Linked DNA regions of Homo sapiens: all the other regions are linked to region 1. Evidence: fine-mapped expression QTL. A gene starts in region 1. Each other region holds a variant in brackets. All regions are shown on one strand. Distances are between the middles of the regions.

Evidence for each region. PIP is the estimated chance that this variant, and not a neighbour inherited with it, causes the effect.
Region 2: its variant is the best candidate, but not a certain one, in a credible set for the expression of WWP1 in naive CD8 T cells (Schmiedel 2018, PIP 0.87).
Region 3: its variant is the best candidate, but not a certain one, in a credible set for the expression of WWP1 in whole blood (GTEx, PIP 0.61).

The regions. Positions count from the first base shown.
Region 1 is chr8:86,341,428-86,344,086 of GRCh38, reverse strand. WWP1 (WW domain containing E3 ubiquitin protein ligase 1) reads right to left here and starts at 1,540. Exons shown (of 25, transcript NM_007013.4): 1 at 1,157-1,540. It overlaps WWP1-AS1 (WWP1 antisense RNA 1), which reads left to right. Exons shown (of 6, transcript XR_007060994.1): 2 at 427-497; 3 at 811-1,005. RefSeq lists a silencer at 990-1,449.
Region 2 is chr8:86,579,224-86,581,723 of GRCh38, reverse strand. It overlaps CNGB3 (cyclic nucleotide gated channel subunit beta 3), which reads left to right. Exons shown (of 18, transcript NM_019098.5): 16 at 2,472-2,500. Among named protein-coding and RNA genes, the nearest start is that of CPNE3, 66 kb to the right of the region's middle. The variant T/G (reference allele first, on the strand shown) is at 1,070.
Region 3 is chr8:86,525,404-86,528,251 of GRCh38, reverse strand. The region is part of intron 2 of CPNE3 (copine 3); the gene reads right to left. Among named protein-coding and RNA genes, the nearest start is that of CPNE3, 12 kb to the right of the region's middle. The variant T/A (reference allele first, on the strand shown) is at 1,534.

The DNA of each region.
Region 1 (2,659 bases):
GTCACACAATAAAAGAACGACTTTCTTCTTTAAAAGGTGCATTTTGCTTGTATAATACACACAGATTTGGTGAGGCAGGTAAAGTGGATTTACACATAAACATGAACTCTTGTTAAAAAAAAAAAATGCAGGTAACTGTAAACCAACTATTTCAGGTAAAAACACCAAACGGGGAAAACAAAGATAATTTTGGACATGATTTTTTTTCCCACTACTATTACCAGTAACATTTTAAAGCAGAAACACAAAATCTTGTTCCACATTAACCTACACACACACAGAAAAAAATTTGTTAAACTTATCAAATAGAAAAAGAAGGCAAAATCAAGCCCCTGGAAAATATTTTATTCTGAAAGAGTAAAAATGTCAAAATTATAACAGACACTACTCTTCTTTGGTAATGAAGGTTTCATATATTTACCACAGCAGAGAAAACTCCAAATCGGCAGAGCAAAGAAAGGACTGTGAACAAGACTGATCATTTAAAGGTCGTAAAGGTAAGGAGCAAACTACAAAATTAAATTTTTTTAAAAAAAGAACACGAAGATGAAAGGAGAGTCTGTAAGTCACAGACAAGATAAGGACTGGTAAAATCTGCAAGGTCACTGGAACCTACCAGGTCACAAAAGGTGGAGGTGGGGGTTGCGCTGGGGGGGCGGGGGATGGGGAGCTGCAGAGTCGGTGAAGAACGGAGAGTGATAAAAACATGTCAGAAAAAGACGTTCCAAAGCTGGAGTCCTTGGTTTGCAACGCTGAAATTGGGGTGAAAGTCAGGGAACGGGCAATGAGTCCATGTATTTGTGTTTTCAGGGAGGTGTTAGGGAAAGGTGGAGGAAGGCGAAGAGAAGGCTAAGGAAGCCTAAGAACTGCGGCTGCAGAGTCACGGAAACACTTCGCTCCGCTCCAGGATCACTGGCACAGGCCTTTGCCAGGGCGAACTCCGGGCAAGACCCGTGACCCCACCCCAGAAAACTCCCGACTCCCGGGCTGGAGAAGGTAGCCAAGGTAGGGCGGACCGTCCCCCGACGGGTCCTAGGAGGGTCCAGCCCGGGGGCGGACGGCGCCGGGCGCCCAGCACCGCGGCCAAGGCTCAGGGCCCGTGCCCCCTCCCGCCCTGCCCATTCGCACCCCCAGCCCCGCGCCGCGCCGTCCTTACCCGGCGCGAAGCTGTCGGCTCCCGGCAGCCGGGCGGCCACGGCAGCGGCACCTCCTCCTGCGGCGGGCGCCCTCACCCTTCCGCGCCCAAGATCGCCATCTCGCAGCAGGCGCGGCGGCAGCAGCCACCCAGGCGTCGGCCCCGGCAGCCCAGGCCGCCAGCAGCCACTCGGAACCCGCACGCGGAGCTCGCCGACACCCGACCCTCCCCCCACCCCCACCCCGTCCACGCGCCACCCCCAGCCGACCCCACACCTCCCTTCCTCGGGAGCGCGCCGCGTGGCCGCGTCGCCGGCGCCGCGCCCTAAGCGCGCGCCTCCCCGCCGGCCCCGGCACCGCGCGCTACGCCGCGGCCGCCCAAAGCCTCCAACTCCGGACCCGGAATCCGCCTCCCCCGAGCATGCGCAGCGAGGGCGCTCGGATGCTGCCTTAGGAAAACTCCGCTCCTCCGGGTCTTCCGAGCAGTCTAGCGGAGGGGGACGGACAGCCAATAGTAGGGAGGGGCGGGGCCTGAACGTGTGGAAGGGGCGGGGCCGCCGCTGAGATTTGGGAAGAGGCTGCTCTAAGCTCGCGCTGGGCACTGCTAATTTGACTTTCCGGTCGGCGGCTGATCCCGGAGCAGGACTTCTTAAGGTCCGGGGGCAAAAGTAGGCTGTCCATAAATACTCCTTGACCTAGCTGGGTGACCTCGAACACATTGCAAGAGTAAATAATTGCATTTAGCCATTGGTCATACCCGAAGACTTTCAGTCCATTTTTTATTAATCAAAACGTTCATCTGTGGAAGCCCCACCACCTAGTCCTCACTCACATCAGCCCGGTGATAAAGCAGATACTTATTGACCGAGTATACGTGTCCGCACAATTAACGCACACAACAATCTGACAAAGTAGTGTCTACTGTCTGCATTTTACAGAAAAGTCAACTAGTTTAGAAAAGTACTGTTGGTTATGTGTATTGCTTTTAGAAGAAAGGCCAATGTGCAAATAGAAGTCAGTGGGACCACATTGCTTACCAGGTGACCCGGTTTCTACTTCAGAGAAGCAGAAGCCTTCAGGCATGGATTTCTACAGCTTTTGCCCAACCACCTGACCAACCCCCATAGATTATATCTACGTCCACACCCAGACTTACTAGTTTTCCTTCTATCTCGGAGGCTAGATGTCCCTGCTCCTCTCCACTGCCTGCTCCCCACTGTGGGCGGTCCTTGGCACATCTTTAACTTCACCCTCTCCACTGCCTACAACTCCTCAGCATAATCACGTTTTAAGATTAGGTCCTAAATTTTCCCTTGATTTTAAAACCTCTGGTTCTCTCTCCCCTTCCATTTTAACTGAGCTTTTTGAAAGAACTGTGTACCAAAAACAACCCCAACACTTCATGAGTGTGTACAGAATTCAACAAGTATCTCTTGACTGAACAATGCACATTCCCGCCTACCTCCATGCATTAGTTCTTGTCCTCTGGCTTCATAGTTGAAATTGGTGCACATTATATCCACAA
Region 2 (2,500 bases), 240 kb before region 1:
AAGGGGAAACAATTTATAATTCTGTGATAAAGTTTCAGTTTTTTGTATTTCCCAATGCTGTGACATTCACAGGAGTTTCTTAGCTTTCCATCTCCCTTAGATAAGACAGGAAGTCTTAAAGGGGCTGCATTGGGAAAAATGTTCTTCCCTCAGGTAGCACAAAGCTCTGGTAAAGTATTTTTCTCTAAATAGTAGGCCTGCGGTATGGAGAACAAATATGCTCTGGGTATATTTCACAATGATTAATCTTCCCCTATGCCTGCCAGAGCCGAGAGGGGATCTTCCTTGGCTCTTCACCCTAAGAACCTGATGAGGTTCCTGGTGGTAAATCCCACAAAAGTGTGAGTGACTTTATAACCATGGCCCCCAAGAGTTTCTCACTCTCATGCTAGTCCACATTCAGCCTCCAACAATTTATTAAAATGAGCATTTAAGCATTCTTACCAGTTATGACTCCAGGGGCTTCTGCTGCAGTAAGCAGATATGGCTGTAGTTTTATGGATTCACCTCTCTCTCCAGATTTGGGGGCGGTAGTTTGCCCTGTGACTTCAGTTCTCTGAAGGATCTAAGAAAAGTCGTTAATTTTTCAATTGTGCAGCTTTTTCTTGTTGTAAGGACAGGAGTAATGATTTCCAGGCTCTTAACCTGTCAGAGCTAAAACCCTATATAAGTTTTTTAACAATTAACAGCCAACTGGAATCCTCCCTTTTCTGCAACAACAGAAGTTGTTCATACTGTATAACATAAATCTTCAGGCACAGGGCCCATGCAGCTTCTTATATCTCATTGCTTCCAAAGGTCAGAGTGTTTTCTCTGTCTTCTCCACCTGTAGAAACTGCTTTTGTTAATGTGATCCTTCTTTCTCAGTTTCTAACAGATTAACTCCAAGGGGTTCAATCTGTTGTGTTATCCTCTCAATGCAGATCCTATGGTGTCTTTTTTAAACATTTGAAATGTGGTTTTTCTTGTTCTGTTTTTACAAACCAATCCTTCCTTCTCAGATCACCGGTAACGACAGACTTTTTATTCATTTATCTTATTCCTTTCTGTGTTTATTCCCCCACTCTTT[T/G]TTGCTTATTTCTCAAATGCAAAATGCTCTTTTATATCCCTCCAAGACATAAAGCCCACAATTCCCTGGCATTCCAGGTGGGGAGATGTATGTGAATGACTATATTATAGAGCAGCTTATGACACTGAGGAACAAGTTGATTTTGGAGTATAGTAGGAGATGAGATTGGATTCACCTGAGGTGACCAGGGCATCATGAAGTGCTGGCTTTCACATTTGATGTTGAGAGTTGTATCAGCCAGAGCCCAGGTGGGAAACAGACACACTCAAGTGAGGCAATTGAGTAAACTTTAATAAAGAGATTACTGACAGAAGTGAGGAAAAGTCTAAGAGTACCCAACTGACATGGTTTGGCTTTGTGTCCCCACCCAAATCTTTTCTCAAATTGTAATCCCCATGTTTTGAGGGAAGGACCTGATGGGAGGTGACTGGATCATGAGGGCAGTTCCCCCCGCCACCCCCCCCGTGCTATTCTCGTGATAATGAGTGAGTTCCCAGGAGAGCTGATGGTTTTAAAGTGTGGCACTTCCTTGCTCTCTGTCTTTCCTGCTGCCATATAAGATGTGCCTTGCTTCCCAATTGCCTTCCACCATGACCGTATGTTTCCTGAGCCCTCGCCAGTGATGCAGAATTGAGTTAATTAAGCATCCTTTGTTTAGAAATTACCCAGTCTCAGGTAGTATCTTTATAGCAAGGTGAAAATGGACTACTACACCAACAAAAGGTGGCAATGCATCTCAAATTTAGCAACAGCAAAGGAACTGTTACTACAGTGAGGCCTGAATGGGAAAAGAAGAGGGTATGTTTACCAGAACTCATCAAGAGTGATGGGAATTGCACTTCTAGAAGACATCCATGTGTCAGGAGCTGTAGATTTTGGTAGAGAACTGCAGCCACTGCTAACCTAAGGCTTGGCAGGAAAATAACAGGGGAGATAAATGCTCTGATCCCACTCTCTTCCTGCTTTCTGATTTCCTATTAGTCTTTTCCAATGGCTGAGCCCAAGTGAAGTCAGAGGGCAAGCCTACAGAGGTCAGCTTCCTGGGAAACAAAGGAGCATGGGGAGAGGTGAAAAGTGGATCTGAAGGAGCAAATGAGGGATACCCAGTCCAAAAGGATTCTGCATTTCTGGAATCTGGGATGAAGGATCTGACAGGATACTGACAGCCACAAGTCCTTGATTTGTGGGACTTAGAGGTGAGAGTTAGAGAAAAAATATATTGAAAACTGAGCCATTTCTATTCCCACATCTTGACACTCTCTGCACAATCACCTGGACCCTCACCTCTAGGGAATGATTTCTGAAGCAGTATAAATACTTATAATAGTTGCTATTTTTTTAAAGAGATTTCAGTGGAGGAAAACTGAAACTGGTGGCAAAGACTCATTTTTCTCTCTTACAGCCTTCTAGCAGCAGGAGGAGGAAACCGTC
Region 3 (2,848 bases), 180 kb before region 1:
TTGGCCAGGCTCAGTGACTCATGCCTGTAATCCCAGCACTTTGGGAGGCTGAGGCAGAAGGATGGCTTGAGCTTAGGAATTTGAGACCATCATGGGCAAGACAGCAAGACCTCGTCTCTACTAAAAATAAAAAAAATTAGCCAAGCATGGTGGTGTGTGCCTATAATCCCAGCTACTAGGAAGGCTGAGGCAAGAGGATTGCTTGAACCCAAGAGATTGAGCCTGTAGTGAGCTATAACTGTGCCACTGCACTCCAGCCTGGGCAATAGAGACTCTGTCTAAAAAAAAAAAAAAAAAAAAAAAAATTTCTTTTTACCTTAACTATAAATTTTATCATTCAGAAAAACTCCAAGTATTATCTTGACCCTTCACTTAAAGGTATGCATAGCATTATACTACAAAACAGATTAAGTTTTATTTTTATTTGTTTATTTAACAAGACACTGAGTGGGATATTTTCTGTTTTCAAGATTTTTTGACTAAAACCAAAAGCCCCCAAAGCCCCCTTTCCCTCCACTCTACCCCCAGCTCCCAATATTTTGCAGCAGTGGTTCTCAATATTGGCTGCTTCCTGGAATCATCTGGAGGAGCTTTCAAAGCTACTGATGCAGGAGTTCCACTTAAAGAGATTTTAACTGGTTTAGGGTACAACCCTGACATCAGTTCCTTGGATGATTCTAATGTGTAGACAAGGTTGACAAGCCTACTATTCTACAGAGAGAAGGTGTGGCCCATCTTCCCTTATGACTTGCTAAGAAATATCAGAGTTAGCTTAACTTCCATAGACCCCTCCTTCCCCAGTCTCCAATCAATATATGAAAAGGACTGGGGATGGGATGGAGCATATGATAGGGGCTGGACTTGAGAAGGAATGTAGTATTGCTGGTGAGCTGCCTTCATCCATGAACCCAGGGAATGAAAGGGGCTGCAGGTGTCACCATGAAAAGGAACTAGGCATTGCATTTCCCATCTGGATGTCCACTTAGCCAGTGGAGGTTGATGGTGCTAGGGCAGGTTCTGCAGGAGGGAAGGTACCTACTACCCTAGAGCTGCTGGCAAACATCCTTGCAATGGGATAGTATTTAATGCCCTTTGCCCTCCACTTTGAGATTTAGCTGAAGTTCTAGGACCACAGAAACAAATCCACTCATTATCTTGTTATATTTAAATATGGCAGTAAGATTCCTGTGCTGTATAAAATGCCTAAGCAAATCTGAAGTAACAAAGATTATCATTAGAAGAGCCCTTTGTAATGTCAAAAAACAACTAACATCTTATTTAAAAATTTTGATAATTCTATTGAACTCTCTAAAAACAGTAGCAGTCCTCAACATATGTCAAAAATCAATACTAAGATTCCTAAATAAATAGAGACTAAGAAAAATGAAGTAGGTTGCATAGTCTTAGAAGTAGCTAGAAAACCCGTTTAAAAACAAAGCTGGCCGGGCACGGCAGCTCACACCTGTACTCCCAGCACTTTGGGAGGCCAAGGCAGGTGGATCACTTGAGGTCAGGAGTTCAAGACCGGCCTGG[T/A]CAACATGGTGAAACCTCGTCTCTACTAAAATACAAAAACTAGCTGGGTGTGGTGGCATGAGCCTGTGATCCCAGCTACTCTGGAGTCTGAGGTAGGAGGATCGCTTGAGACTGGAAGGCAGAGTTTGCAGTGAGCCAAGATCATGCCACTGCACTCCAACCTGGGTGACAGAGTGAGACCCCATCTCAAAAAAAAAACAAAACAAACAAACAAAAAATATGTATCTTATATATTTATATATGTGCCTAGTATACAGTAAGTGCTCACATTTTATTATCATTTTATCACTATCTGCCTCTAGGGTCTGATCCTATCTTATCTATCCCATGTTTCATATTTTTTTATTATTCCATTCCATGATTATCCTGATTATTCCAATCCATACTAAGGTGTTCCTTTGAATTCCTATTGCACTAATAGTAACAGATTACTGCATTACAGGAACAAGATCAAATTTGGGGTAATGCACACACCCAATTTTTTTTTTTTTGAGACGGAGTCTTGCTCTGTCGTCCAGGCTGTACTGCAGTGGCGCGATCTCAGCTCACTGTAGCCTCCGCCTCCCAGGTTCAAGCAATTCTCTGCCTCAGCCTCCCAAGTAGCTGGGATTTCAGGTGCCCGCCACCGCCCGGTTGAACCCTCCATCTGGCACTTGCTGTGTGACCACGTATAAGTAACTTCAACTTCCTGGGCCTAGATTTCCTCATCAGTAAAAATGGAGATAATGCAAGTAAATTTGTAAATCTGGCACGTGCCAGGCATACTGTTTTTTTGCATCTAATACAGAATCTGTAAAATAAATGTGAGTTGTATGATTTTTTTTTGCATAAGGTAGTTTAGAGTCTTGTAAGTTGTATGTCAGCAATATCAAGCATAATGCAGTGCCCTGTGGATGAACATAGAATGAGCAACAATAGCTAAAGCTTCCCCCAAAAAAACATGTAGAGGATTCTCTACCAGCCAGCAGAAAAGTCTTCAAATTTCCAAGGATGGGAAGAATTCAACAGAGAATGAAGACATCTACATGTGAAGTCAGTCTCACAGCAAAGAGACACCACATATCAGAAGAGCATTATTTTTTTCCCTAAAAATGCTTATACAAAAGCTACAAAAACAACATGCCAGGCACAGCTGATTATTTAACCAATTGCTGACAGTTATACTACTGCATTGCTGCCAGGAAACAAATTTCTTCTATTAGCAGCATTCCTCTCTGAAAAATGACTCTGTGCTGGTCTCAATGTTATCCTGAAACCCATTATGGCTGAATGGCAAATGGAAGAAATTACATAAACACTAGGGTCTGGAATCTTG